2 separate regions of the Homo sapiens genome follow, and region 2 is linked to region 1. A link means that fine-mapping ties the variant in region 1 to the expression of a gene that starts in the linked region. Tissue or cell type: whole blood. Region 1 holds a variant in brackets; the other region holds the start of a gene. All regions are shown on one strand. Distances are between the middles of the regions.

Evidence for each region. PIP is the estimated chance that this variant, and not a neighbour inherited with it, causes the effect.
Region 2: it holds the start of AAK1, and the variant in region 1 is fine-mapped to the expression of AAK1 in whole blood (TOPMed, PIP above 0.99).

The regions. Positions count from the first base shown.
Region 1 is chr2:69,711,777-69,719,959 of GRCh38, reverse strand. It overlaps a transcript of ANXA4 not described here. Among named protein-coding and RNA genes, the nearest start is that of ANXA4, 26 kb to the left of the region's middle. The variant G/A (reference allele first, on the strand shown) is at 3,226.
Region 2 is chr2:69,638,643-69,646,825 of GRCh38, reverse strand. AAK1 (AP2 associated kinase 1) reads left to right here and starts at 3,087. Exons shown (of 22, transcript NM_014911.5): 1 at 3,087-3,251; 2 at 3,552-3,948. The coding sequence starts at 3,786. It also overlaps a transcript of ANXA4 not described here. RefSeq lists enhancers at 1,301-1,903, 2,659-2,928 and a silencer at 3,009-3,338.

The sequences.
Region 1 (8,183 bases):
AACCAGAGAGCTTATTGCCAATTGGTAAAGACTTCGCCAGGCACAGTGACTGATGTCTGTAATCCTAGCACTTTGGGAGGCCAAGGTGGGACGATCACTTAAGCAGGAGTTTGAGACCAGCCTGGGCAACATAGTGAGACCCCATCTCTACTAAAAATACAAAATTTAATGATTTTTAACTAATGATTTTTGTATAATTAATAATTCAAAAAATAATTTTAGGCAGGGCATGGTTTCTCATGCCTGTAATCCCAGCACTTTGGGAGGCTGAGGCAGGTGGATCACTTGAGGTCAGGAGTTCGAGACCAGCCCAGCCAACATGGTGAAACCTGTCTCTACTAAAAATATAAAAATTAGCCAGGTGTGTTGGTGGGCGCCTGTAATCCCAGCTACTCAGGAGGCTGAGGCACAAGAATCACTCAAACCCGGGAGGCAGAGTTTGCAATGAGCCGAGATTGCACCACTGCACTCTAGCCTGGGCAACAGAGCAAGACTCCGTCTCAAAAAAAAATAATAATAATTTTTAAAAATTACTTGGATGTTGTGGCACATACCTGTAGTCCCAGCTACTCAGGAGGCTGAAAGCAGGAGGCTTTCTTGAGCCCAGGAGGCTGCAATGTGCTATGGTTGCACTATCATACTCCAGCCTGGGTGCAGAGCGAGACCCTGCCTCAAAAAAAAAAAAAAAAAAAAAAAAAAGACTGGAAAATAGTCAATGGTTAGAAAACTGTAAAAATGGGGGTGTGGCAAGGTCAGGAGTTCAAGACCAGCTTGGCCAACATAGTGAAACCTTGTCTCTACTAAAAATACAAAAAATTAGCTGGGCGTGGTGGCAGGTGCCTGTAATTCCAGCTACTTGGGAGAATGAGGCAGGAGAATCACTTGAACCTAGGAGGTGGAGGTTGCAGTGAGCCGAGATTGTGCCACTGCACTCCAGCCTGGGTGACAGTGTGAGACTCAGTCACAAAAAAAAAAAAAAGGAGGGTAGCTAGCTTGAGACTTGGAATATCAGGAAAAGCTTTATAAGAGACTCTGGAAGGACAAGCAGAGGCCATGCTGTGTATGCATGTGTGTGTATGCATGTGCGTATGCACACATGTGTATGCATGTATGTGTGTGCATGTATATGTGTGTGCATGTGTGCAGCATGTGTGTGTATGCACGTATGTGTATGCATGTGTGTGAATGTGTGTGTATGTGTGTGTATGCATGTATGTGTGTGCATTTGTGTATGCATGTGTGTGCATGTGTGCGCATGTGCATGCATGCATGTGTATACGTGTGTACATGTTTGTGTATGCATGTGTGTGCTGTGGATAGGGCTGGTGGGAGAGAAGGAAACCCCAAAGCACAAGAAGCAGCAGGTATAAAGCCCTGGAGCCAAAGAAGTCATGACAGGTTCTGGAAAGTGTAAGTAATTCCACAAGTCTGAACCTGAGTGATTCTATGACCTCTTCCAGTGACCTCAAATTCTGGCTAAGCATTTCCCAAACGTAGCTGAAATAGTATCTACTTGAGAAAGTTGAATATAATTTAGTTCCTGGCTGGTGTATTACATCCCCCCAAGAATCTCTTAAGAGATTGTCAGGTAAAGAAGGAAGGGTGAAATGACAAACATCCAGAGGGTGGGGGTGCCATTTATATTGCAATCCATCTCCCAGTGGTAGCCTTCTTTGGGAATTCTGACCAGCTGGGGGGACCTTTCCCCACAGGTTCAAGCTTTTGTCTAGCAAATCTGGGGTCCTCACTTCTGTTATGTAGATGGGAAGCAAGGTTCTCCTGGGGTTACACAGCAGGAACTTGACATTTGGAGAATGTGATTGATGAGTTCTGTCCTCCCACAGAGAAGTCCCATGGTGAGAGAGGGCTCTAGAAGCCAAGTAGCCAGGGGACTTTCCAAACTAAACATCTGCTATGAAATGCAGACCGCACTGAGCTATGCCTGACCTAGCTAGACATACAGCCTTAGGGTATCAAGCATCTCCCTAGCCAGGGTTTCCCCATTAAAACTATTCCTTTTAATTCCAGCTTTCTTACTTAGAGGACCCCTGCTGAAACATTCTAGAGGGAAGGGAGTGCATAGGTTGTGTACGTCTCTTAGTTTGCCTGTCATCTGGTAGAAAGCCAAGGCCCATAGGGATCCAGGCACATTCTAGTTTAGTTAGTGCCTGAAACAAGCAAACTGGATGAGGTACCAGTCCCAGGCATCAGGAAGGCTCAGGGCATCTGCTGCAGAGGCAAGGCTTTGTGGGGAGGGGTCACAGGGAACAACATATTCCAAAGAAGATGAAACAAAGAAAAGCAAAGTTTCCAGTTAGATACGTGGAGTTAAAGAGGAAATGGCGGTAACAGAAAGATGCAGCGACGGGTAATTCCAGAAATGAAAAGGATGGGACATCAGGCCTTTCTGCTTCAACTCAAAGTCAGATCCCTTGAACTCACAAAATAATATTGGCTGATACCCTGGAGAGGGAGGCCTTTGTTACCCTCATTTATGATGCAGGAATAATGATCAAATGCCACCTGCTTGTGTCGATGAGCCAGGCCTGACAATTAAAGGGTGGGCGCCAGGATGGGCTTTGGGAGTGTGGGATGAAAGGCACTGGATGAGAACAAAGGGGCCATGGTGGGAGTTTTCCAGCACCAGCCTCAGTTTTCTGCACAGAAGCCTCCTGCCACCTCAATGCCAGCTTTGAAGGCATAGGCAGGCAAAGAAAACCAACAAGCCAAACAAAATGCATATGGATGCTTTTAAATGGGCATGTTCCTATTCAGTGGGCATGAATTGGAGAATATTCATCTTCAGCCACCTCCTGCACCCTCAGGGCGTCAGCTCCTCCTTCCAGGACCACTGAAGAGATGGAGCCCCCACCCCAGCCCCTCTGCTACACGATGCTGCTTTACGGTCTCCCCTGCACTTCCCTTGTTTCTTGATTGGTTTCTCTGGTTATCATCTGTTTTGTCTTGCCACAGTGTGATGCCAGGGAGCAGAGGCTGGACGGTGTTCTCCTCCACACAGTGCTTGGCCAGTAGTAGGCAGACAGCAAACAGCTGAATTGATGACTCAGAAAAACTTAAACATCGCCAACTCTGTCATCTCTTTTAGTAAACCTACTGGACAATTCCATTTAAATGTATGATACTTACTTCAAACTGCACATGAACAAAACACAACTCTTTTCGTTCTTGCCCTCCCCTCTGGCCAATGACCAAGTCAAAAACGTC[G/A]AGTCATTTTCCATCCTGAGCTCTTCACCTGGATTCCCGGAGCAGCCTCATAACTAATCCGCTGCCCTCCTGTTGTGCTGTCTCTCAGACCCGTTCTCCCGAGTGATCTTCTCAAAACGAGCTTGAGCATGTCACACCACTGCTTGAAACCCTTTGGGGGCTCCCTGTCGCCCTCACATAAAGACCAAACATTTTAACCTGACAAACAAGGCCTTCCCTGATGTGGCTCTCGCCCGTCTCTCCAACCCCCTCTGCACATCTCAGCTCAAGTCATCCTGAGCTGCTCGCAGTTCCTCGAGTGCAGCTGCTGTTACGTTCACCCTCTGCCTCTCCTCTTATCTTTCTGGTGAATCCCTTTTTTCCTGGTTCACCTGTTCTATGAAGACTTTTTTTGACCAGTATTGTATTTCTCAGGACTCTTGACTTTAAGGGACAGAAACCCAACACAAACTAGCTTCAGTTAAAAGGGGATGTATTAACTCATTTAAGTAAGGACTAGACAGAGCCACCACAGGAATGGCTAGATCCAGACACCCAAACAATGCTGTCAGCTCTCTCTCTCTCTCTTACTCATATGTACATGTATTTTGGCTTCTTATTATGAGTTGGTCTCATCCTTTCTTGCTAGAGGAGACTGTACTCACAGAGAACTCTAGACTTACATACAGTTTGATCACTCCAGGAGAGAGTGAGGCTTCTTTCTCCCAGTCTCAGGTTATTAAAATTATGGGAAAGGCTAAGAGTAGCCTGGCTGGTGACGTGTGCCCAGCACTTGGCCCATGACTAGAGGGACAGTGTTGTGATTGACCATGCCTTGGACTCTCTTTCTTGACCTAGGAAGAAAGAATGGGTATTCCTCTTGAGGGAGCAGCTGCCAGATAAAAGAGGGAGTCTGTTATCACATAAAGAGGGTAGACCACTGATGTCTCCTTCTTACCCCTCCCTCCACCTCCATTTATGTTCCCACTGCCCTCTGTGCATAGGCACAGAAGGGGACAAAACACATTTTGGACTCAGATAGACATAGAGCCAGTTACTGGCTTTATAGTAACTATGTGACTTTGGGAATGTTTTAAGCCTCTTCGTGCCTCTGCATTTGCATCTGTACAATGTTTTAGGGATGTGTTGTGAGGGTTAAAAACCTAGGCAAATTATCTGGGACATAGTAGGTACTATGGCAGTCATAACAATTATATTTGACCATCTCCCTTTTCTAAACCATGATTTGGCCAGGCGTGATGGCTTATGCCTGTAATCCCAGCACTTTGGGAGGCCGAGGTGGGAGGATCACTTGAGACCAGGAGTTCAAGACCAGCCTGGCCAATATGGTGAAACCCCGTCTCTACTAAAAATACAAAAAGTAGCCAGGCATGGTGGTGCGTACCTGTAATCCCAGCTACTTGGGAGGCTGAGGTGAGAATCGCTTGAACCCAGGAGGGGGAGGTTGTGGTGAGAGGAGATTGCACCACTGCACTCCAGCCTGGGTGACAGAGCGAGACTCCATTTCAAAAAATAAATAAATAAAATAAAATAAAAAACAAACCATGATTTGCTTGAGGCAGGGCCTTATTTTAGGCAAAATTTAACTTGGTTATAAGAGCAGGGCTCAAATATATGATGGATTGATTTCTGTCCACTGAAACAGGATGATACTGAAAGATAAGGCAAGTTTTGCAGATGAGGGAGATATTCAGTTCTGTCTTCTTCAATCTTGGCTTTATGATACTGGCCCATTGTTATTATGTAGTCTTCTGTTTCAAGCTCTCCAAAGCATCTCCACATCTGTTACTTGACTTCACTGTGTCACCCTGGAGGGAGGACCTTGCGTTAGGCTTCATGAACAGATCTGATGAGGTATCCACAAGACACAAGGTTAACCAAGAATGGGCAGCAGGGGGCGTTGTGGACAAGCCCCGGGGAAGCCAAGGGAAAAACTGCAGAGGTTCTGAACCTAGACCTGCCCAACGTCCTGCTGACCGACTCAGGCACCTCCGGACCTGGGTGTCTGGCTATTGATTGGGTACATGCTGAAGCACGCTTGCCTCCCAGGGCATCCCATCACAAATTAGGCCCCAGCTCTGGGATCTGGCCCAACGCAGGCCCTCTCCCATGTATAGGAGCTGTGGGGACAACACAGGAGGTTAATGGGAGCTCGGCCAGGATCCCAGGAAATAAAGCACTGAGGTTTGATACACTGATGGGCACACTGTGGACAGCAGGCTGGCTGGACTGGGGCAGGTGGAGTGTTATGTGAGTTTTCGGTCACGTGCCCTCGCCGAAGCCCCGTCTCTTATATTCTTAGGCTTCCTTCGGCTTCGGTTGCCAGGAGTAGGTGCTTGTATTCTATAGAGTCGTTTATATTTGAAATCCTGCATGGATGCATTTGGTCCTCACCGCATCCTTCCTCCCTTCCGGAAACTGTACGCTCCCCTCCTTAGAAGGTCACTTCTCCACTCCATGGGGTTCTGGTGGGGCTCCCAGAATGTGCCCACATCTCCACCCTTACCCCACCCCCCGGCCCACCCAGCCACTGGAGGTGGGAAAGAGCTAGGGCTTGTCAGAAGGCAGACCTTGAAGGAGAAGAGCCTCCCAGTAGGGAGGTCAGGAATGTGCTCAAAATCCAGGCTCAGATGTCTTCAAAAGCCTGGAGAGATGTCACCCACCAGGCACTGTGGTCTTTGGCAACTCATGTGGGACAGAGGTGTAGACTAAAGAATGTTCTGCCCCATTCTCTTGCGGAGGACAGAGCAAGGGAGAGTAGAGCTCCTTCCATATTCGAATTTCCCTTTCTCCTCTTCACGGCAGGGAGTCCGACCTTTGTGTTCCTCCATCAAGTGGAATTTGTGCTGCAGGGTAGACAGCGAAAGCTGCTGAGGCATAACCGTTTTTCCCCCATTCTTTCTTTTTGTGAAAGGCAAAACTCCTCAAAGTCCTAAACTGTTAAGAGAGTTAGGTGCCCCAAGAGGAGACGGGAGAGCGGTGATGCCTTCAGGGCAGCAGCAGAAGCAATGGAAGGATGGATGAGGAACCCCACAAAGGGGAGAGAACTCTGGAGTCTGTGAAGAGCGGGGAGCTGAGACCCAACTCGTTATGTTACGGGTTGTGTGTTGCTGGATCCGGCAGGTAACAGCTTGCTGGACTGAATGTTAAAGTCTCAAGAGTTTTACAAACTGATTGACTTTACTTTTTAAATTGGCTTTATTGAGGTGTACAATTTACATACTTGGAAGCAGCTATGGTAGAAGTGTTTTTACACCATGGAGATTGGCACATACTACAATTCAGGGCTTTCTCTCTGCCCCAGAGCCAGCTGCTAAACATTTACCAGCACACCACCGAACATAAGAGTGGCTTCTTCCAATCTTATCATCCACATATCGCTTCTTCCTTGGGGAGAATGAGTGACAAGAATGGGAGGGAGAGGGCCAGAAAGTGTGTTACACCAATAGCACTCCCCTGAAAATGGAGTAGAGGTTCTTCATGGAAACAAAGAATGGAGATAGAGGGGCTCCCTCTACCTTCCTTCCATCCTTTCATTTTCTTTTTTTTTTTACTTCATAATAATGACTATACTGAAGATTTCAGGAAAGAATAGGAGGCAGCAGGGTGGTGGTTGAGAGTAAGGCTTTGGAGTCAGATGGCATTTGGGTTCCCACAGCAGCTCTGCCACTCTCTAGTTGTGTGGTGTTGTATAAAGTGAGCAAGGTCAGAGTGGGAAGTATTGTTGTATGTATTTAGGGTAGAAGCCAGTCCACTCTGGTCATCTGAGCTCTGTTGGGGATCTTCATTGGCCCCAAAGAGTCCTGTTTTCATCTTCTCTGAGCCACTGCAATGAATGAATGGTGGTAGGCGTCCACAAACCTGGTGCACAAAATGTGGATAGGATTTAGGTGATATCTTCACAACTCAAGAAGAACCCAGGCTTCAACAGTCCAAGAAGCTGTAATCTCCTTCTTCTAGGCACATCTGAAAACAAAATGCCAAATGGGAGGTCCTGTTGCTAATGTTGGTCCTCCAGTTCTTTACGAGGGAGTGGGTAGATCCCATGGCCTGTCTGAATGTCACTTTCCTCATCCATAGGGTAGAAATGACAGGATAACCTCATTATCTTTTGTGAATCCATATTAAAAGGCCCAGAACCATTGCAAATTTGTTACTGAAACTTTCTGGAGTTCCCCAGTTGGATCCAATTAGGATCATTACTGAGATGGTTGTCTCCCCTAGGCTGAAAGAAAAATGCCACCGTTAACCTTTAATCATTCACAACAAACCCAAAGAAAAAGTCCTTGGCCCAGGTCCTAATAGGGCTATTAAAGCTATTTTCCTATTCAGCTGCTTAGACTCGGAGTGAATAACCCGGTAATTTTCTACTGCTTCTCCCCACGGAATGTAAAGGACCAAGAGAGTGAACTCTCCTAACTAATGCGCTTTAAGGCAGGGGCCAGATTTTACCTTCCTGTCTCTTGGTTTGCTTCCACCCTCCAATTTTCTCCTTTGGTTGTTTTATTTTAGTGTGAGGGGTATGTGTTTGTGTGTATGTGGTGGTGGTGGTGGGGTGGGGTTGGGGAACATTTGGTTGTGTGTGGTGTGTCTGTATGTATGTGTGTGGTCTGTTTAGTGGAAAACTTTGGAAGCACGCAATAGTTACACATGGTGTCTAAGACCCCCCAGGAAAAGGAGAGACCAAGAGAATGAAGAGAAAAAAATAAAAATAAATTGAGACAAAATAGGCAACACATACAAAAATCCTATGTATAAAAACTGTTTTCTCAATTTCTTGCTCTCCTTTTTCCTTTTTGCTGCAGTAGAGACCCCCCCATCATGCCCCATATTTCTCTATGTCTCTTTTCTCTCTCTGTGCCCTCATTAACTCAACCTCCTTAACACTTCCAAAACCAGAAATCATTGTCCTGACACCATCCCCCACACCCTTCAAGTCCTATTTCTCTTTCTGAATT
Region 2 (8,183 bases), 73 kb after region 1:
AGTCAGCATCTAGTGGTCAGTGAGCTACAATTGATTCAATATTGCTTATCTCCAGGCCAGTGTCTATTTAGCTACCAGAGAAAAAGAAAAACCTTGTGGCAGTTAGAAGATGGTTTACTCTTCAAGTGTAGGGATGTGTGACTTAACCCTTGCCTGACACAGCCTTAGGTCTTGTTTATAATTTGGCATCTTATTGCCTCAAAGAGTCTGTTCCATCGGTCATATGATCACTATTGTAACAATAGTAAATGGCACTTTCTTTTCCCACTCCCTTTGACTATTTACCCATAGCATCTTCCACACCTAGTTCAAAATTCATCTAGGATACTTCAAATCAATCTTTCCACCTTAATCAGATAGCTCTGTTTTGTGTCACATTTAAAGTAAATTATTTACTTTAAGTACTGCTAAGAACACACTCTATGTAAACTATTATACTGGATGCCCAAGGAGATAAGTAGAAGATGGTTCTCTGGCTTTGAGGTGTTTGGTTGAGACAGCAATATACATTAAAAGTTGAACAGGAATGCAAAGCAGCATGGGACAAATTATACAGAAAGTGTGATAGTTTTGAGATTATAGTGGCTGATCTGTTCATTATTTTGTACTCAGGAACTAAAAAATTACTAAGAGTTGTAAGAGCTCTGGTTTTATAGCTGAGATAATAAGCCCAGTGACACAAGTGGTCTAGGATCCCAGCTATGAAGTGGCAAGAGGTTTCCTGTCTCCTGGTCCTATGCTGCTTGTGCGTGGGTTTCTAACTATTCACGAGTCTTTTAATCAGTTAATGTTTGCTCTCTCTAAGTAGACAGTTTAGTATAGCCAGGTAAGAACTGGGCTTTGAAACTAAAATGTTTGGGTTTGAATCCTGGCTTTGCTATTTACTGTGTGACTTTGGGCAAGTCACTAATCTCTTTGCTTTACTTACCCACCTATAAAATGAGTATAATAATGGTACTTTACTTCATAGGGTGGTTGTGAGCATTATATACTTAATATATGTAAAGCATGAAAAACTGTGGATTTGTCATTATAATTGCTATTAGTCTGTGAGGGAATGGAGGGCAAGGAATCTAGTCATGTTTTTTGTTTTTTAAACCTCTTCCCTCAGCTTCTGATCAGAGCATTCACGTGGGTGTTAAATAAATGCATGTTAGCTACCTTAAGCATATTGGGAGTTTTTGTATCACTGAAGTAAGACTTGAGATTTGTGTAAGCCTGGACTAGTCTGGTACCAGAGAAGTCTAGAAAGGTAAAAACTGAGATAGCATCAGATTGATTTTAGGACCTAGCACAGCTTGTTTAAAAAAGTCAGTCAAGACAAATAAGTGCTGAGAGAAATGGGGGTCAATGAGTCTAATTCCAAATGAGCTTTCTCATCTATTTTAAGATCTGCTTCAAACTTCCTCAGACAAAAATCTGGCCTTTTAAGGAAAGTGCAGAGAACATGCCTTCGTGGGCTTAGTTTGAGGGAATAGGGGCTGCATTTCACCCTGGAGGTGGCTACATGAATTCGTGAACTGAGGTGACAACACTGACTCTCTCCGGAAGAAAAGATGCTATCTCTTCACGGAGTTTAATTACAATGGCACTACTTGAAACAAGCTGCAGCAGCAGCAACAACAAACGCTACTGTTAACCCAGTCACAGCTCAGCTCAATATTCAGATTAGAGAAAGCAAGAACCATTTTTTTCCCTGGGACACCCTTCTCTACTCAAATACCCGCTGAAAAAAAAATTCTGAGACAAGCACTAGGGAGTGGGGAAAGCGGGCAGAGATGAACAATAACCCATATTCAGGGGTTAGAAAAATAATATTAATAAATCATGGTAGGTTTTTTTGTTTGTTTTTGGCAGCAACTTGCCACTCTTCAGCATCATCCATCAGGAAATCTAGGTCGGAAAAGTGTACCAACTGACCTTCCAAATTTTCTGCATTTGGCAGATGCAAATCACACAGTCCATCCCCGCCCTCAGCACTTGGACGGTATCAGGGAAACGTAAGTATCAATGGAAGAATCTTGAAGTGAAAAATAAATAACTGGTCAGGTTAGGGTTAGTGTTCTTGTGTGCAAGGGAGCTAGTGAAGTTTAGGCTTTGATGCGCACCCACAGCGTCAGCAAAGGAGGAGGAATTAAGGGACAGCATGGGCCGAAAAGCCCCCGAGTTTTGAGGTCAAGCCAACGGGCTGGGTCTCCGGTATCCTAGGATCTGCCCTGCACACAACCTTTGGCAGTTTCTCGGTTTGAATCTCGCCTGTACATTTCCAGACGAGACACTGTCTTACTGAGCGTTCTCACAGCGCCTAGCTCAGAGCTGACCGCAGAGCCGGCTCTCAATAACATCGAGACGCAAAAGCAGCTTTTGAGGTTAGGGGCGGAAGGGCATCGGTTTTACTTATTTCAAGGCTGGCGCTCGGTGCAGCCGGATCCAACTGCCAGCACAATGTTCCCGATCACTTCTCGCTTCCATTTCAGCCCAGGAGACGTCGGGAAACCCACAGGACCCGCTAGGGGCTAAGCGGTTAAGCCGCGTCCTTCAGGTGTCAGTCTCGATCCGTTCGGAAACCACAACCTCCAGAATCCCTTGTGCCAGGAGGCCAGGCCGCAAATAAGATGGCTCCAGAAGGGTGGAACATACAGCGGGGGGGGGGGGGGGGGAACTTAGTTGTTGGCAGTTTCTTCACGGGATGTGTTTAAATTGCCGAGTCCCCACATACGCGCCACCCCACAAATCTCCTTCGAGGCCGTGGAGGCCACACGGCTGCCGCCTCGCCCTCTCCTCCAGGAGTATGCTGGGATTTGTAGTCCAGCAGCCGGACTGTGCCGAGCTACCTTTCCCAGCTTGCCCTGCGGCTCGGGTGATATCAACAGTCTTTTCCAGAACTCTGTCTGCACTGAGACCCTCTTCCCCCAGTCCTCTTCTCGCGGTCGACTCCTTCCCATCCGTGGCGACAGAACGGCGGTTGCAGGAGAGGCCCCGGTCCCTCGCCGCGCCGCCCCGAGGGGCACTTCCGGCGGCGGTTCACTTCCTGGTTGGGTGGATGGAGCCGGGCGGGAGCGCGCGCGGGGGAGGGGCGGCGGGTCAGTCTCCGCCCGGCGCTCCCGGGATCAGCTGGCGGGCGGGCGGGAGCCGAGCGCGGCCCCGGCTCTCGCTGCAGCGCCGCCTCTTCTCTGCGTCGCAGGCCGGCCCGGCGGCCGTGACAATGTCGCGGGGCTGGTAGCAGGGCGCCGGCCGCCGAGCCGTCTCAAGTGGGTGCTGCCAGGATGCCGCCTCGAGGGGCGGCGGGGAGACCCGGGAGGAGCGGGAGGCAGTGCCCGGGAGGGTCGGCGCTGCCGGAGCAGCTCGGATCCCTCCTTTCTCCGAGCTCCCGGCTCGGGGGTCCCGGGTTCTGGGGCCGGGGTCGCGTTTTCAGCCCCACGGTTTTTCTCGCCGGGAAAATACATGAAGCGTTTCCCCAGGATGATGGCTTTTGCTCCCCCTAGGACTCAGCGGTTGAATTTTTAAGCGTGTTACTGATTCATCCTCTCTTTCTTCCTCTGTCATCACAGGTTTAAACTTACACGAATCGCTTTCTGGAGGAGGAGGGGACCCGCTGCGCGATTGACACGCATATTCCTATAGGCATCCTCCCTCAGCCCCCACCCCCACGGCCGGATTCGGGTGGCTCCTCTCCGAGGTGAAATCTGAGAAGAAATCCTTGGATCTCTTTTCTTAAAAAAAAAAAAAAAAAAAAAAAATCTAGAAACCATCGGTATTTTGCTTTGCTGCTCCCTATTCGCAAGATGAAGAAGTTTTTCGACTCCCGGCGAGAGCAGGGCGGCTCTGGCCTGGGCTCCGGCTCCAGCGGAGGAGGGGGCAGCACCTCGGGCCTGGGCAGTGGCTACATCGGAAGAGTCTTCGGCATCGGGCGACAGCAGGTCACAGTGGACGAGGTGTTGGCGGAAGGTACGGTGGGGCTCAATGCGCCGTAAATTAAAATCTTGTGCTGATGCGGCAATACTGTGGTTTCTAGTTGTTGCATGTATGAATGGGCTTTGACCAGTTGACCCTCCCTTCCCCCTTCACTTGCCCTGTGAGTCATTGTCCTTGAGAGATTTAAAATTGAGATTTGAAAGTGACTGGGCTTATGGGGGTGTGGGGAGGTTGCCGAAATTGTTTACGTTAGTGGCCTTTTATTTTTATTTTTTTAATATTGAGAAGCCAAATTTTGAGGATCACACAAGAAAACGTATGTGTGAAAGTGTAAAGCTTTATGCCAAAGGCAGGGTGATGGGCTTGTCATCCTCCTAAAACTTAAAATCTTGATGTGAAGGCTGAAGGGTGGGGGGACTTTTAAGAAGAGAGGGGTTTCTCCTTCTCCTACCCAACTTTCCCACTTCCATGAGCAGGCATTGGAAGGAAGAGAGGATTTTCGGAGAACGTGAACGTGTTTTTCCAAGGGCCAAGGCTCTTGGTGGATTTCACTAGTAGATTTGTTTCCTGACCCAACTGTAATCAGGTCCCCAGGTTATAGCAAAGATAACAGAAATTACATAAAACAAATGTGGTTATTTTGAACTCAGTCTAGTAGGCCCCTCTTCCTTCTCGCTTTAGGTTTTGTTTTTTGTTTTTTTAATCAAAAGAAAAATTACTTGAGAGTGGCTCTGATTTTGTTTTTTCGCTATCAGAGAGGATGTTATTTAGATCTGCTGCATAAATTCCCTCTGTGTTTCATCTGTGTGTCTATACTCACGTAGATATACATCTTGATTCCCCCAGGCTTTCGGGAAATCTTTGCATGTCTCTTTTGGTAACCTTAACCTCGACCTTCATAATTATGCCAGACTCATACTTTTCACAGCCCTTCGCCTGCCTAGTGTGCTTTTATTTTTAATAAAAGCAGCAATTTCCTTGGCATGAAGCAATTCAGACTGATTGGATGGGGCCAACCTGCTGTAGGTTGTGTTATAGACCGAGAGGGGTTGGAAGAAGGGAGAGGTCTCTCTTACTGCAACATGGTGATGGTAGGGAACAGTTTTATTAGCAAGGGAAGAGAGAAAGCTAAGAGGCCTCTTTAAAAAGGGGCCTTTTGCAAGCTAAAGTTGAAGCAAGGGTCCTGACCTGGGCCTGGGAAATGCTTACCATGGTGGATGTTGCGGGCTGGTGGGTGGGTTTGGAAGAGGAAGAAGCTGTGTTTGGCTCTCAGCTTGTGTAAGCACTGGATTCAGCAGGGCCCAGTTTTCTGGGAATAGAGTTGAAGTCTGTACTTTAAAAACATGATTTTTAAAAAAGATCTCTGACAGTTAATGTCCATGTGAAATTATTGCTCTTCCAATCTCAGTACTGTTCTAGCTGCGCTTTATCTGGGGCCAGAGTCACTGTCCCCTTGGATCTTTCCCGTGGACTTTGGTGCAGGCTAGGAGATGCTTCTGTGCCCGCTGCCAGATCCGCACCCTTGAGTCTGATCTGTCTCTTTCATCCCTGTGCCAAAGCCCTTAACTGCAGTGGGGTGGAGAAACAGTGAAAAGGAGAGTGTGTCAGAGAGAAATCAGGAGAAACGAAGGGCCACAGAACACTTTCCTCCCCTCTGAATGGCCTCTGCTGACCTTATAGCCCACGAGCGTTTTGTTCAGCTAGGATGTTGTCTCATCACGGATGATGCTGCCCTAAGCGGTGCATGTTCTCCAAGTGTGAGAGAAGTGATAGGGAAAAGAAAAGGCAAAATTGGTCTTTGTTACCTAGGCTGCCTTCCTCTTCTCTGGGATTCATCTTTGAGAACTGCGCATCACGTATTGTGATATTTTTACACAGAATTTAGGACTTGTAGCTCTGCATTTATTCATTCAACAGTTTATGGAGTTGCCTGTGAAGTGCCAGGTGCTGTGCTAGGCTCTGGGGGTATACTGTTAAACTAGATGCTAGCTTTTACCAACTGCTTTAAGAGATGGAAAATAGCCAGTTATAGTGGATTGGTAAATGCCATCATAGAGATAAACTTAGGGTGCAGTGGCCCCCAGTTTTAGGGAGCCCAGGATTTCTGAAGGAAGTGACTGAAGAGTGAGTAGGAGTTAGTGTGGTGGCACCATGGGCAAAGACAGAGTAGCGAGAGAGAATGTCACGTAAAACTGGGTCTGGCTATGCGCCCTTTTTGTGTTCTTTGGCTTAAGTTGAGTTTGAATTTGTGGCTCTTAGAAGTATGTAGATATGTAGGAGCCAGTATACAAAGTATTTATGTAGCACCTACCAAGTCCAAAGACCCTATGAAGTTCTGAGATGGATGAGGGAGGTCTATAGTGTGATTGACATCTGCCTTTAAGGATCTGCCAATGAATTTGGGAAGATGAGGCATACATTCACACATACAGTAGCATGGTTACCAGCACTGTCTGTAGAGTCAGACAGATCTAGGTTCAAATTCTGGATCTGTTCTTTACTAGCTGTGGAACTGTAGGCAAGACATTCCAAACCACTCTTGAATCTCTGTTTCCCTGTGGCAGTGGTTCTCAAAGTGGGGCATACTTATCACCTGCGAGCTTGTTGGAAATGGAGATTCTCAGGCCTCACTCTGTAGGCTGTGGGTGTGGGGCTTAATAAGTTCCTGGAGAGATTCTGACGCAAGGTCAAGTTTGAGAACCACTGCTTAATGGGCTGGTCATGAAGATTAAATGAGGCAATATATATAATTAACATTTTCAGGTGTTCAATAAATGGTAGCCATTACTTACCAGCAACGTTATACATCATATGTATATATGTGGGGGGGGAGAGAGAGAGAGAGAGAGAGAGAGAGTGTGTGTGTGTGTGTGTGTGTGTGTGTGTGTGTGTGTGTTAAAGGGGAGTGGGAGCAATGTGAAAGCTAGTTGAGCTGCAGCAATCTGAAGCAATTCCTTTCCCCCATTGTTAGGGGACAGAGCCAGATGTTCTTTGCAGAGTCCTCACCAGCTCCTTAAAGGCTTAACAGACGTTTTGGGTAGCCATGCTCCTTCCCTGGACTCTCTTCTCTGTGAGTCCCCGAGTGCTGACTTATCTACAGTTCTAGCCAGAGTTGTTTAAGGACCACAGGAGTTGTACCCTGTGTGCCCAGAGCGGTGGCTAGGCAGTTTAGGGAGGAGTGGTGTGAGAGGCTTCAAAACACAGACCAGATTACCACCACATTCCGCTGATGATCTCTTTTTCTCTAGCGTGGGTATTGGTCTGTGCTTTTTCATAAGGAATTGCAAGAACCCCAAGGAGCAGGTGCTGGGTAAGACAAAAAGATGTCGCACTGCCATACCTCCCCTGGTAGCATCAGCCTTCCTGGCCTGGTTTCACTAACTAGTCCAGCAGGGGCTGTTTGGGGGAAGTGAAGGCTTTAAGTTATGAGTTTAGAGGAATATGGCTATTTCTAGGCTGGGTGCCAGGGAGAATATTTTCTTTCTAGCTTTCTCAGCAAAGATGCCATGATGAGAAGCTAAATCATGTCTAAGTTAATGGGCATATGATATCAAGGGAAGATTTGGTTTAAGCTTCCAGAATGAGCTCAATGGGAAAATTGGAGCAATGTTCAAAGAAGGATTGAGAAGCTGTGCTTTTATCATACTTCCTTAGCTATACGAGGACTTATATCTAAGCTTTAAACAATAAATGTTTATTTATTACTGTGTTGAAGACAACATTCTGGAACTATAAGGTGGACTAGATGGCTCCTCAGAACAGCTTTCTAATTTATATTCAAGGAATCCAGGTCCAAGGCTGATGAGAAGTACCAAATGTCCACATCAGTAAACTTTGATAATTTCTCCTACCTACAGAGCAAACTAGTAAGGCTTAAAAATGTGTGTGAAATCACCAAAAATTCCATTAAAGGCACATAATATGTTGGTGGTATCAATATGATACACGTACGTGCCTCTTTGTGGCAGGCACTGTATTAGGTTCCAGAGATCCTAAGATGAATGGGACACAGGCCTGACTCTTAACAGAGCTCAACACCTGAGATAAGTGTCCAGCACTTAAGCGTGGCCTTTGACATACATACCTTAGATGGTAAAAGATGTTATGATAAAGAGCCTGGGGGTGAGAGTTCATAGGTGACATGAAGTTTGAACAGGAATAGAAATTGCCCAGCAGATGTTCCAGATGGGGGTTACTCAGGACCTCTCAGGCTGAGAGAATAGTATAGGCAAAGTGGTGAAACAGCATGATAAATTTTGAGAATACTG